Linked DNA regions of Homo sapiens. The protein of the gene in region 1 interacts with the protein of each later gene in a pairwise test. Each region holds a gene or a part of one and is shown on either strand. Other genes may lie near its edges.

Region 1 (7,600 bases):
CATTCACAGCATCACTGCACCTGTCTATGTGCCCTAGGGGCAGCATTTGACTTCACAGCTGCTGACAGTTCTCCTAACCTCAACTTCTGGCCCTCTGTGGAGAACTTGCTATGAACTGTAACCTACTAAACTGCTCCTAGAAGAACTTGCTGCTCAGAGTATCCAAACCAGCAGGTGACACCTCTGCTAATAATTCACATTTGACTTTAGGTTGCATTCATTGTTTTTATTTTTGCTTTTTAAACTAACATCCTGTCCTGGTAATGTCACATGAGTGTGATGTTGATCAGGTATACCTGGGGCAGATATTCCTAGAGAGTGTGCTGCCTGGCAGAGGAAGCAATTGAGTTGGTCATTAATTTACTGGGTGGATTCCTAAATGGGGGCCTCAGAGCAACTGCTTTGGGTAACAGGGAACATCTTTGCTGTTTCTAGACCCCTGGAGAGGGCTTGGCATCCTGACAAGGAGGCCAGGATGAGCAGCTCCGTCTTTTGAATAGCTCAATCCAGCCTCAGACAGTTGAAATTAGATGTTAATCTCTGACCAGGCATAGTGGCTCACATCTATAATCCCAGCACTTTGGGAGGCCAAGGCGGGTGGATTCCCTGAGTCTAGACATTCAAGACCAGCCTGGACAACATGGCACAATCCCATCTTTATGAAAAATACAAAAATTAACCGGGCATGGTGGCATGTGCCTGTAGTCTCAGCTACTCGGGAGGCTGAGGTGGGGGTCTGGCCCCCACATCCCAGGTCTTTCTGCTACACCACACTGTTGCCATAATGACTTCGACCTCATTCTGCCATCTCCTAAGAAAGCCAGAGTGCAGGCTAGGAATGTCACCTGAGCCCAGGAACTCAAGGCTGCAATGAGTGGTGATTCCACCACTGCACTCCAGCCTGGGCGACAGAGTAAGATCTTGCCTCAAAAAACAAACAAACAGCTGGGCACGGTGGCTCACACCTGTAATCCTAGCACTTTGAAAGCTGGGGCAGGCGGATCACTTGACATTAGGGGTTCCAGACCAGCCTGGCAAACATGGAGAAACCCCGTCTCTACCAAAAAAAATATTAAAAATTAGCTGGGTGTGGTGGTGCACGCCTGTAGTCCCCAGCCACTTCAGAGGCTAAGGCAGGAGAATAGCTTGCACCCAGGAGGTGGAGGTTACAGTGAGCCGAGATCATGTCACTACACTTCAGCCTGGGTGACAAAGTGAGACTGTCTAAAAAAAAAAATACTTTTAAAAAATAATAATTTTAATAAATGCCTACATATATGCGTGTGTGTGTATATATATATATAACATTTTTTTTTGAGACAGGGTGTTGCTCTGTCACCCAGGCTAGAGTGCAGTGGCCTGACCAGGGCTCTCTGCAGCCTCGAACTTCTGGGCTTCGGTGATCCTCCCATCTCAACCTCCTGAGTAGCTGGGACCACAGATGCATGCCACCACACCCGGCTAATTAAAAAAAGAAATTTTTGTAGAGACAGGTTTTCCTATGTTGCCCAAGTTAGTCTCAAACTCTTGGGCTCAAGTGATCCTCCTGCCTTGGCCTCCCAAAGTGCTGGGATTACAGGCGGGAGCCACTGCACCTGGCCTCAAATGCCACCATATTTCTGATTCCTGTCACCTCCAGGCTCAGAGACTGTGAGTAAACATTCTGGGCAGATAATCGTTTGCAATTGCTTCCAGAGTGCTCTTTGCTGAGCTGTTAAGCTGTGGGCTAAGTGGTAAATGTCAGGTATCTCTGCTGTCGTGGGCCAGGTGCTCAGATTGCTAGGATACAGCAGGGGGTGCCGAGATGAGGCAAGGGGCCGGGTTAGGAGTCCCTGCTCTAGCACAGCGATACTAGCTGAGTCCATCGATGACCTTTAAACCCGCTTCCCCGGTTCTGTCTAGATTACAGGGTTTGGAAGGCTTTGGAAGATGTGTTCAGAGAACTTTGCCCAAACTGGCCCACGCCTGTTCCAATGCTATGCATAGCTGTTTCTGATTCTTAGCCAGCTCAGGCCCTCTATTCTTTCCATGCTGGTCTGCGGCCTCCGTTACCCACCTGCTGAGGGCGATCTTCTGGTGGAGCAGAAAGCCCCGCTCGTAGGGCCAGGGCAGGCCGGCCTCGAACCACTCTCGGCAGCGCAGCACGGGCGAGATGCAGGCGGCGCCTGTCACGTAGCTGGAGGAGCCGCACTCGCCCAGGTAGGACAGGAGCAGCGCCGAGCCCGAGCCTTCGCTCACCGCGAACAGCGGCGCCGCCGGGTGTCGGAAGCGGATGTATGTGACCGCCTCCTTGAGGTCGGACGGGTCCCCGAAAGGCTGCAGCCGGGGGCTGACCAGTGGGCAACCGTGGTGGCCGCGGCGATGGAAGATGACCGGGTAGTAGCCGCGCTCCAGGGCGAGCAAGCAAAGGCCGAGCACGTTGCGGGTGAGGCGACCCCACGCATTGGGGATCACCAGAAGCACCGCAGGAAGGCCCCCGGCGCTGGTGATCCGGCGGCCCCGAACACAAGGTCCTACCACCCAGTCCAGGGCCACTAGCCCATCGTCCGCCAACTGCAGGTACTCCCGGGCCAGCTCAGGCCCAGGCGCTACGGGCAGGACGAAGTGGCAGAGGGTCTGCAGGTGGGGCCCGGAGAACCAGGAGCGCGGGCCGGCCTCCAGCGCCTCTGAGCGCCGCAGGGCGCGCAGCAGGCACTGGGCCAGGGCCGACGGCTTGCAAACAAGGCTGCACCCTCCCGGCAGTGGCTCGCGCCCGTCGCTGAACTGGTCCGCCGGGCCTCCGCCGTCCGCCTCCTCCCCGTCGTCTCGGTCTTGGGCCCCCGGCAGGGTCCTCTCTCCGACGGCGCGCCCCCAGGGTCCCCGGAGCCGCGGGCCGAGCAGGCCGAGAAGGGCGAGCACGGCCAAGATGAGCGCGAGGGCGGCGCCCCACGGCGGCATGGCGAAGCTGGAGAGCCCCGGCGGGCAGCGGGCGGCGGGGCCGTCTACTCGGCGAGCTCCGCGCTTTGCCCGCGGCTCCGCCCGCCGGCGGCGGCTGCCCAGGGCCCTCCCGCGCGGGCGCGCTCTGGATTGGCCGTGGCCGGGCAGAGGCAGCCAGTTCGGGCCCGGCTGCCCTCGCCCGCCCCCCACCCCCGCCCCGGCCCTTTGTACAGCAATTGCAACAAGTGGGAGCAGAGGGTGAGAGGAGCCGGGGCCACCAGGGAGGGAGGGCGCGCCGGCAGCCGGAAGGGAGTGGGGAGGGCACGAGCCGGGGAGAGCGGTGTTGGCCATGGAGACGTGGGGAGACTGGAGGCCGAGGCTTGGGGACCCGACTGTCATCAGGGTCTTCCGCCAGACCCTGGGCGCTGCGCCCTCAGAGGCCGATGAAAAGAAGCAGAAGGGAGAGGTGAGTAAGTCGCAGCTCCGGGCGCCGGCTCCCGGGACCCCGTGGGGCGGCGGCCGCGCGCGCGCTCTGCCCTCGGGCGGCCCTGCTCTCCCCCGCCCGGCCCCGCAACCCCGCAATAACTTGGCTGGGCGGGGTCCGGCACTGGGCTAGAGAGGTCGAGCGCGGCGTCTTGAGCCGCTGGCGGGAGGCTGCTGCTTCCCCGCCTGCATCAGTGCGGGTCCCGTGGACTCCTCGCCCCCGTCCCCGCGAGCTCGGGGCTCCACATCAAGGAAATCCTCAGCCCGGGAGTGGCTTCCCCAGAAACAGCAGCCCCAAGCCTCCGAGAGTCAGTCGGAGAAAAGGACACACTCAGGCGCCCTGCGACAGGGATGCCCGTCCGACCTACAAGGAACGCCTCGTAAACCGGGGTGCATGGGAGACCACGGAAATAACACGTTCTCGCTGTTTCCAAGCTTTGGGATAGGCATCTCGACCCTCGCTCTCTACCCACGTTTCCCCCCCAAATCCTGGAGAGGGAACCAGAACCAGCGCCCCGCTGCGGGGCGGGCCGGCCAGCGCACCTCCTGGGGGTGAGGCCTGTGGCGTCCCCATCTCGCGGCGACCAATCTCTTTCTAGACGCGCGCCTGCCACCGCTGGGCGACGGCGGAGGTGGGGAAGACAGCAGCCTCTCGGCTAGCTCCGGCCTCCCGGGGCTTCTGGGTTTGGAGAGTTTGGGGAGCGGAGACACCTCCCGAGGCTCCTCCGCGTTGGACCCTATTTGCGAGGGCGGGAGCGGGGTGGGCCGACGGCGAAGCTCCAGAGGTGGGACCCTCTCCCTTCAGCAGCTCTTCCTGACTTCATGATTCTGCCCCTCTTCTCATTGCAGGTCACACCGACAAATCTGAAGCGGGTTTGCCAGGGGAGTGTACCCGTCTCCCCAGCCTGGGCCACCCGGTCCACAGGGATTCCATTTCCGGCCTTACACTCCGCTCCACGATCTCATCCAGGCGCTGCAGCTGTGCAGCTGCTCTACAGACTGCAGGGACCTGCTGAGACGAATCCCCGGACGAGGAAAGGGGCCCCCCGCCTGCCCTACTGAGCCTTGCGCGCTGACCCGGTTCCTACACTTAACTTTTCCGGCTTCGGGTTTAAGACGCGTGCGCGCACACTCCGCTGCTGTGGGCGGGCATTGGGGCGGGGCGATACCGGGGGCCCACTGTCTGGGGAGGGGCGCGCGCGAGCCCAGGGCCAACGGACGCGCGGGCGGCGCGGGCGGCGCGGGGGCGCTGGGGCTGGAGGGGCGGGGCGCGCGCGCTCCCTCGCTGGCGGAGCGGCTGGGCGGCGGGCCGGGCCCGGGGCCGCTTGGAATGGCGCCTCCTCCGCCTTCGCCCCAACTGCTTCTCCTGGCAGCCCTCGCGAGGCTCCTGGGTCCCAGCGAGGTAAGGTGACCCGCTCCTGGGAAGGCCTCGGCCCGCGAGCTCAAAGCGCTTTGCCAAAAGTTCGTCCTGGAAGGAGTGGCGCGCCGAGGGGGACGCGGAGTTCTTCCGCTGGCGGGCTGGGCCTGGGGAGAGAGAGGGCAGGGCCTCGCCGCGTCCAGCGCCCCAACTCTTCGCTTTGGACCCACAGGTGATGGCTGGACCGGCGGAGGAGGCGGGAGCCCATTGTCCCGAGAGCCTGTGGCCTCTGCCTCCGCAGGTAGGAGCCCTGGAGGGCCCAGGGAGAGAGGGATGTGAAAGGCTAGCCCAGTCCCGCTCTGTTCTCGCCGCACCCTCCACAGTCACCATCTGAGGACCTCTGCCGGTTCCTCAGTCCTCAGTAGCCAACTTCTCCATCCCAGCCTGGCGCTTGGGGCCTGCCGTCCCCTCCCCACCACACACACACGGAGTCCCCCAACTGCCCTAAGCTCTGTTCTTTCCCCATGTATAGGTGTCACCAAGAGTGACCTACACACGAGTGAGCCCAGGGCAGGTGAGTACAAGCAGGGGCCCACCACCCTTGGTGTCCACGCCTGGAGACAGGCGCTCCTAGCAGGCTTCGCTGCCTGTTCTGCTGATCGGCCCCATTCCTTACCACTTCCCTCAGGCAGAGGCAGGGTTCTAGTTCTCTGCCCCACCTCCAAGCCCAGGACAGATCAGCCCCAGGACAGATGGCTCAAAGACAGTGAGCCATAGGCCTGTCATCTGCAATGCTGTGTCAGGATGCTGTTGGGTAGCTGGCTCTGTGGACAAGTGGCTGTGAGTGGAACTCTCTCTGAGAGTAGCTGGAAAAAACCCAGGCTCCAGCTCCCTGAGGAGACAGCGGGAAGTCTCCTGACTTTGTGGGCCCCAGCTTTCTGTAGGAGAGGGTATTAATTCTGTCTCTACCTGTGAGCAGCGAGGGAGGGTATGTGCCAGCACCGTGTACAGTACAGAGCTGCATCGTGCAAGGAGTGTGCCTCCAGTTGCCAGGCTCCACACTGCGGGCTCAGCTTGCGTGGTAGCATCTCCATCTTCATCGCCAGCTCCTCTGAATTTTCCTTTGAAATACTTATTATTATTATTATTTGAAATGGAATCTCACTCTGTTGCCCAGGCTGGAGTGCAGTGGCACTCACTGCAACCTCTGCCTCCAGGTTCAAGCAATTCTTATGCCACAGCCTCCCGAGCAGCTGGGATTACAGGCGTGTGCCACCTAGCTTAGCTAATTTTGTATTTTTAGTAGAGACGAGGTTTCACCATGTTGCCCACGCTGGTCTTGAGCTCCTGACCTCAAGTGATCTGCCTGCCTCAGCCTCCCAAGTGCTGGGATTACAGGTGTGAGCCACCATGCCTGGCCTGAAATACCTAACTTAAATTGGCCAGGCATGGTGGCTCACACCTGTAATCCCAGTACTTTAGGAGGCTGAGGCGGGTGGAACACCTGAGGTCAGGAGTTCAAGACCAGCTTGGCCAACATGGTGAAACCCTGTCTCTACTAAAAATACAAAAATTAGCTGGGCGTGGTGGCACACCCCTGTAATCCCAGCTACTTGGGAGGCTGAGGCAGGAGAATTGCTTGAGCCCAGGAGGCAGAGGTTGCAGTGAGCCGAGACCATGCCACTGCACTCCAGCCTGGCGACAGAGCGAGACTGTCTCAAAAAAAAAAAAAAATTCTCTGTAATAGCTCCAGGCCAAGAGTTGTTGCCTCACGCCACCTATCAGATTCCTTTCCTCAAACAGCCCTTTCATGAAGTCATTCCTCTGTTCACAAACTGTCAATGGCTCCTTATTTCCCACCTTATCGTGGCCATATTCTCCGGCCTGGCTTTTCAGGCCTTACTTAAGTAAGCTTCGTCTGACCTCTCCACATCCTTGGTTCCTCTCCAGTTGTGTCGGGCTGTTTGCCACACAAATGAGTGCCAGCCTCGCCCTTACCACAGCCCCTTTGCTCCTGTTTATTCTCCTCCACACCTGGCCTATCCTGACTCGGAGAGTGCAGCTCCCTGCCCTCCTGCCATACTCCCCCAGCCATCTTCCCAGTCCCAGCTGGCATCAGCTCCCCCTGAGACACTGCCCGATGGCATCAGCCTTTATTCCTCCCCTCCTCCTCTGAATCTATCTCTGATAATTTAACAACTAATCACTAAGTTTTATTAGTTTGCTGTTTTATTTGCATTAGTTGTTTCCCTGAGTTTCTCACACACTCCTTGCAAGCAGAGTCCAGGAGTTCTTTGGCATCTCCCACAGCATCTAGCACAGCACTGAGCACCAAGTCAACTCAATCAAAGAATAATGAATGATTGATGGAGTATTTCCATCCTGAGATTGTGCACCTGCTGCCTGCCTGCCCTGTATTTGGATGCTCTTGGGAGACTGTATAGATTGGATCGATGGTCTTCATTTGGGGGTTGCTTATGGCTTGGATTGTGGACCTGTAGAGCCATCGTTACACCTGCAGGGAAATATGGCTAGAGTGTGGTCTGAGTCTGGCAGGATTATCCAGGCATGCTGTGAGCTTTGAAGGGTGGCACTTGATGGAGAGGAAGGGTGAAAGGAACACTCAGAGGCAAGAGTGGGTACATGCCAATACCCAGGGCCCTTTGTCCTTTCCTGGGCCCTGAAGGTAGAAGAGCCATCCAGCTATCCTGGGAGTACCTTTAAACTGGTCCCCTGGATGGGAGAACTTGAGATTCTCTGGGAGGGCTCTGGGCCTGCTTTGATGTCTCTGTGCCTTTCCTCCAGGCTGAGGATGTCACCTTCCTCTACCACCCCTGTGCCCAT
Region 2 (7,023 bases), on another chromosome or scaffold:
TTATTTTTTATTTTCTGAGACAGAGTCTCACTCTGTTGCCCATGCTGGAGTGCAGTGGTACAATCTTGGCTCATTGTGGCCTCATACCCCAGCTTATGCGATCCTCCCACCTTTGCCCCCCAAAGTAGCTCAGACTACAGGTGTGCCACTACGCCTGGCTAATTTTTGTATTTTTTGGTAGAGATGGGGTTTTGCCATGTTACCCAGGCTGATCTTGAACTCCCGAGTTCAAGATATACTCCCGCCTCAGTCTCCCAAAGTGCAGGAGGCATGAGCCACAATGCCCAGCCAAAGCCTTAATTTTATACTGAGGTAGGAGAGGTATCTCACCTTTACAGCCTTTATTTGGTGTAGTGAATATACTGTTTCTCAATTTTTGAAGCATGTTAGCTTATGCCCTTCTTTCAGCTTTTTGTTTTGAAATAATTATAGATTCATAGGAAGTTGCAAATAAATGTACAGAGAGGTTCTGTGCAACTTTCACTGAGCCTGCTTCATTGTTAACACCTTGCGTGACTAGCAGACATCTCTAATAACTGTGAAAATCAGGGAATTGACATTGGTACAATCCACAGAGCTTATTCACATTTCACGTTATACTAGCACTGTTATTGGGGGAAGTGGGGAAGAGCTATATGCACTATTATCATGTCTAGCTTTGTGTAACCATCATTAATCAAGATACATATCTGAACTATCACCATAAAGCTTCATCGAGTTATTCTTTTATAGCCACATCTACCCCGTCCCTCTCCATGCCTGACCCCTGGCAACCACTAATTTATCTCCATTTGTATAATTGTTACTTCAGAGTGTTATATAAATGTAATCATGTAGTATGCATCTTTTTGAGACTATTTTTTTTCCTTCCACTTAGCACAGTTTCCTTAAGGCTTATACAAATTGTTTCATGTATCAGTAGTCCTGTTTCTTTTTATTGCTTAAAGTGTTCCATGGTGTGGCTGTATGATAGTTCAATCATTTGCCTGTTAAAGGACATTTGGATAGTTTTCAGTTTTTTAGCTTTTACAAGTAAAGCTGCTTGCATGTTTTCATTTCTTTGAGATACATGTTTAAGAGTGCAACTGCTGAGTTATATGGCACATTCATTTTTAGTTGTATTAATAAAAGGAACTGCCATACTTCTTCAGATACCATTTTTATATTCTCACCTGCAGTGTAGGAAACTTCAGTTTCTCTGAATCCTCACCAGCGTTTGGTGTTGCCACTAATTTTTATTTTAGCCATTCTAATCAGTGTGTGGTGATACCTGGGGTTTTAATGTGCATTTTCCTAATGATGATGCCCATTGTTAAGATACCAAATAGTTTACCTTAAAAAAAAAAAACTTTTGTAATAAAATACTTTTTCAAAAAATCATAATATGTACTGAGCCGTTTAAATCTCACACTTGGGAGATGTTTCATAGGTCTCATTATAGAACTTTGTGTCTTCAGGAAGAACACTAAATTCATATTGTAATTCTCTTTATAGGTTCGATTGAGTGAAACAGACTTCAAAGTTATGGCAAGAGATGAGTTAATTCTAAGGTAAAATGTTCTCTGTTCAAAAACAAAGTCTTTCTATAGAACATTATATTGTGACTCTACACTGTAATTGTCTTTGTGCCAGATATTGTTTTTAATGTTGTTCTATCCTCAAATAATTTAATGTACTTTTTGAGCATACTATGACCTATTTCTTATATTAACACCGAGGAAAACGTAACACTTTAAAGAACTACTAGGAAGCTATAAGTTTAACAAATATATGGCTTGTTTTGTGTAGTTTTTCCTTTCGTGTTTAACATTTGAAAAAGAAATGTAATCCTAAAAGATGCACTTATATTTATGGAAGAAATACATAATTTACTAATGAAGTGAGGTTACTTTTTCTTATTAGTGTGACCTTCACCAGCTCATATAACTTCATACTCTTCATTTTCTCATCTGTAAGTTGAAGAGGTTGGGTTAAGTTATTGTTAAAGGTGACTTCCAGTTCTGAATTTCTGCGGTTATCTTGTAAATGTCTTACAAAAGCAGATTGTCAAGTACAACGTATAATCTTTTTAGATTGTGTAAGAAATCAGGAAGTAGGATGTTCTGTGTTTTGTAATTTAAATATATTCTTTCTGTATTTTATTGCTATGGTTAGTAAGTTTCTTGATAACTTAGATAAAAATAAAATAAGTATTTTAACAGGCTGAAAGCGGAGGAGAGAAAAGATGTTTTGTGAGATAGGCTAACACAGATTTTGTTGTTTCCTAGAGTGTGACAATTTCCTACTTTCACCTTTGGACAGCTACTGTATTATGAACACACTTTTTACCTTTTTTTTTTTTTTTTTTTTTTTTTTTTTTTTTGCCATAATCTCATACATAGGACAGTTTCCATTGCATACCTTTGTCTTTCTGCACATAAAATTTAAATTTTTGTTATTCTAAAACACTTCTGTCTTATGCTGAAGTATATACTTAAGATACACTACTACTCAATGCTGGGTTTTTTTTTGTTTGTTTTAATGTGCATATAAATTATAATAGAGGTGAGGTGCTGCTCAGGCTGGTCTTGAATGCCTGGCCTGAAGTGATTCTCTCACCTTGGCCTCCCAAAGTGCTGGGATTACAGGCATGGGCCACCATGCCTGGCCATGATTTTTTTTTTCCCTGTCTCTGGCATTGTATACTTTTTTTAATGCCTTCTTACATAATTGCTCTGGTTAGTCTGTGCAGTCATTTTTTTGATTTAACTGTAGGAGGGGAAAAATCAGTAATCTTAATAAAGAATCATAGAAATGTTTTATTTTAAGATACCTTTAAGGTTTCTAAATCATATGCAGTGTATTTCCTTGAGGTCAGTTTAACATCTTTCCTTAGGGAATTCATGTAAGACTTTTAGGCGAGTTTTTTCTCTTTGATTCCCTTGGAGATTTTAAACCAGCTGCTACTTATTTAACTAGTCTGTGCCTTCTATCCTTGTGATATACATGTTCTTGCTTCAGTTTTTATATTTTTCTGTACTTCTAAAATAAATCGTTCTTTTATAGCCTCCACTGAAGATCTTTCTCTATACATCCCCAAATATTTGGTAAACTACGTGTCTTAGGTTGTAAGTGCCGTAAAAATAAAGCATGGCCTTGGCTGAACATCAGTGTTTACATAGAAAGTGGATTAGTTTGGTATTAGGAAGGTTTTTTTTTTTTCTTTTTTCTTTCTTTTTTTTTTTTTTAAGACAGAGTCTCGCTCTGTCACCAGGCTGGAATGCAGTTGCGCGATCTCGGCTCACTGCAACCGCCGCCTCCCGGTCAAGCGGTTCTCCTGCCTCAGCCTCCCAAGTAGCTGGGACTACGGGCATGCGCCACCATGCCCTGCTAATTTTTTTGTATTTTCAGTAGAGACGGGATTTCACTGTGTTGGCCAGGATGGTCTTGATTTCTTGACCTCATGATCTGCCCGCCTCGGCCTCCCAAAGTGCTGGGATTACAGGCACGAGCCTTTTTGTTCATTATGTTGTAATATTAATAACTCATGACAAGCCTGTTTTTAAGATTATAAAATGGTTTTCTAAAGCCAAATTTTAATTAATTGTACCTGAAGAGCAGCTTGAAAACATGGCTCTTAAGTATGCAGGATAGCAGACATTCAGGGCAGGGTGCTTTCCATTAGGAACTGCCTAATAAGACTAGGAAAAATCTTTATTGCTAAGAGGACCTAGCAGTGTATATATTCAGGGTAGAGAAGTATAATGAAGAACAACGGTCCCCTTGTATTCTGATAGCATATGGCATTTATGCAGGTTTCTGACAGTTAGATGTGATTGTTAAATTACAGTCTTGAAAAATGTTATATTCTCCCCCTGTGTTTACAGGCAGAAATTGATACTACCTTGAGAAGAGTCACATGGTATTTTCCCAAAAGAGCCAAGATAAAGAACCTTCAATTCTACATAATGAGGCACATTTCTAATATGCCTTTTGTTCTAAGTGGACAACATATGAAAGCAGCAGTGGGATTTTTTTTTCAGCTTCTATAATCCAGGATTATCCTGAACATCAGTGATATCAAAGTGAATCTGGGGTTTGATCTCACCCAGGGCATGCTTGGCATGTTCTCAGCAGAAAAAACCTTCTCTATATATCTCTTTTTACCTGTTTCCTGTAAAATGGGAAGGAATAATGAGGGACTATTTTATGATCAGTTAAACTAGATTTAGGCTGGGTGTGGTGACTCAGGCCTGTAATTTCAGCAGTTTGGGAGGCCAGGGTGTGAGGATCATTTGAGCTCGGGAGTTCAAGACCAGCCTGGGCAACGTAGTGAGACCCCATCTCTACAAAAAAATGAGCCATGTGCCTTTGGTCCCAGCTATACAGGAAGCTGAGGCAGGGACATCGCTTGAGCCCAGACCCTGTTTGCGCCACGCTGCACTCCAGCCTGGGGGACAGAGCGAGACTCTGTCTAAAAAAAACTAGATTTAAAATGAAAAATCCAGAAGAATGCTCAGTATTACTAAAATCTGTGAGTTTATAGATATCTTCTAGTTTATTTAATAAACTATTTTATCGTAACAACTAATGTATGGATTTTTTTTTATTAGATGGAAACAATATGAAGCATATGTACAAGCTTTGGAGGGCAAGTACACAGATCTTAACTGTAAGTTTGAGTTTTAGCTTCCTAAAGACTGAATAATCTCCTTTTGATTGTTAAAATCAAAAGGATAGTTGTTTTTATTAAAGCAAATGTAATTTTTCTCGTGTTTTATTATAAGAACTGTACATAGGCACTGTGTTGGGTGCAAGAAAATATAAAGATGAATGAGACACAGTCTCAGTCATTGGAGAAGACAGAGGTGTAATAGTCATGTAATGGCATGACTTAGCAAAATTATATGCAAGGTTCTGAATATAGATGCAGTAACTCAGAACTACTTGAAACTTTTCTTACTTGTCCCTAACCCCTTCTGCATAGGAATTTGACTTGAAGCATGAGTTACTAGTCTAGAAGAGAAATAAACAGAAGCAACCAGTAACAGATTTATGACAGCTTAAATCAATATATATAACTTAATAATATATACAGATTTTTTTAAATCTGCTGAAAATAACGTTTATCATTTTAAGCCATTTTAGTCTCACTTTTTACTGTTTGAATCACATACTATTTGTTGAGTATAAAAACCAATATATATTGTTTTGTAACTTCAGAAGGGTTAATACCCTGAAATTCTAATTTTGCGTGACTGTGTTACCCATAGAAGTCATGAACATTGTGAAAGTTTAAGGCTAGGCACAGTGGCTCACACCTATAATCCCAGCACTTTGGGAGGCCAAGGTGGGAAGATCACTTGAGCCCAGGAGTTTGAGACCAGCATAGGCAACATAGGGAGACCTTGTCTCTACAAAAAAAAAAAGAGTCAGGAGGATCACTAGAGCCCGGGAGGTCAAGGCTGCTGCAGTGAGCCCTGATTGTGCCACTGGACTCCTGCCTGGGTAACAGAATAAGATCCTGCCTCAAGTTTAAAATACAAATTGTCCAGCAGTTATTACTATTTTATTTATTTATTTGTTTGTTTGAGACAGGGTCTCGCACTGTTGCCCAGGCTGGAGTGCAGTGGCACAATCTGGGCTTAGTGCAACCTCTGCCTCCCAGGTTCAAGTCATTGACCTGCCTCAGCCTCCCAAGTAGCTGGGATTACAGACATGCATCACCACGACTGGCTAATTTTGTATTTTTAGTAGAGACGGTGTTTCACCGTGTTGGTTAGGCTGGTCTGAAACTCCTGACCTCAGGTGATCTACCTGCCTCAGCCTCCCAAAGTGCTGGGATTACAGGCGTGAGCCTCTGTGCCCAGACAGCATTTTTATATTAAATAGGTTAAAACATACTAATCAGGATTTTGTGAATACTGTATAACACAGATGTTTTCTGTCTTCTGTTGGGAGTAGATGAAACTATAAAAACATAATTTAGTTAGTAGTCATGGAGCACTATGACACCATTGTCTCCTAAAGGAGCTCTCGTGACCAGGAAGAAATTCGCCTGTTATAAAAGTAGTTAGGATGGAAACTAAAGACTTGATTAATTTTTTGACCCTAGTTCTTATTGTTCTTGACAGAGGTATTTAGAACTTGATCTTAAAATTGTATTTATAATTTTTTTTTGAATCATCAGCTAATGATGTAACTGGCCTAAGAGAGTCTGAAGAAAAACTAAAGCAACAACAGCAGGAGTCTGCACGCAGGGAAAACATCCTTGTAATGCGACTAGCAACCAAGGAACAAGAGATGCAAGAGTGTACTGTAAGTATTTCAAGTTATATAAATGTCTTTAGTTGAGGAATTGGTTTTTAGTCCACATTATTACATGTTAATTTTAAACATTTAATGCTAAATATAAGAGCTTATCTTTTATAGGTACGTATGCTTTGAGCTTTAAGAATACTAGATGAAAAATTTTGATAATGTCTCATTTAGACTGTTTTTTGTGGCCAAGAAGGCAAAGTTTTAAGTTTTTTTTGAAATTTTCATGCCTTATAAGTATTAGTTCATCAATTCCAGACATTTTTCAGATATCTTGGTGTCTGAGGATGTAATCAATAAAAGAACATTTGCTCTTTATTGCTTTACTTTCACTGATTAGGAAAGCCATCTGAGGACTTTATCTCTGTTCTCTTGTCCCCTCTGTGTATAGAACTGTTTTTCCTAGTGTCAGCAACCTCTTTAGTGTCTCCTTTTTAATTGTTAGAACTTTGATGTGTACTGTGTAGTATTTACTATGTCTACGTAGATCTGAAATCTAGTGACATAATTGATCATCCAGCTCTGGTAGTTTAGGCTCAATCTTACGGTGTAATTATACAAAATAATTAGAGGCAGCTGTATCCTTGTTTCTGATTTTAAAATCTGAATGTTTCTTCAATTCTTTGTGTACTCTCCCTTCATTTGGTACATATAGAAGTCTTCTTATGTGTTATTAAAGTCTTCTAAGATAGTATTCTGGTCATTGGAGACACCAAAAATCTATGG

Evidence for each region.
Region 2: the proteins of ABHD15 (region 1) and WTAP interact in binary tests that used the Homo sapiens proteins (3 or more experiments, as listed by UniProt).

The regions. Positions count from the first base shown.
Region 1 is NC_000017.11:29,564,030-29,571,629, forward strand, and holds the start of ABHD15 (protein ABHD15 precursor), read right to left. Parts: upstream 3,009-7,600; 5' UTR 2,938-3,008; coding exon 2,057-2,937; intron 1-2,056. Other genes in the region: TP53I13 (tumor protein p53-inducible protein 13), read left to right, coding at 4,730-4,801, 4,989-5,057, 5,289-5,330, 7,562-7,600. UniProt on the Homo sapiens protein: May regulate adipocyte lipolysis and liver lipid accumulation.
Region 2 is NC_000006.12:159,737,496-159,744,518, forward strand, and holds part of WTAP (pre-mRNA-splicing regulator WTAP), read left to right. Parts: intron 1-1,494; coding exon 1,495-1,550; intron 1,551-2,363; exon of another isoform or gene 2,364-3,947; coding exon of another isoform or gene 3,948-3,952; intron 3,953-4,592; coding exon 4,593-4,651; intron 4,652-6,169; coding exon 6,170-6,297; intron 6,298-7,023. UniProt on the Homo sapiens protein: Associated component of the WMM complex, a complex that mediates N6-methyladenosine (m6A) methylation of RNAs, a modification that plays a role in the efficiency of mRNA splicing and RNA processing.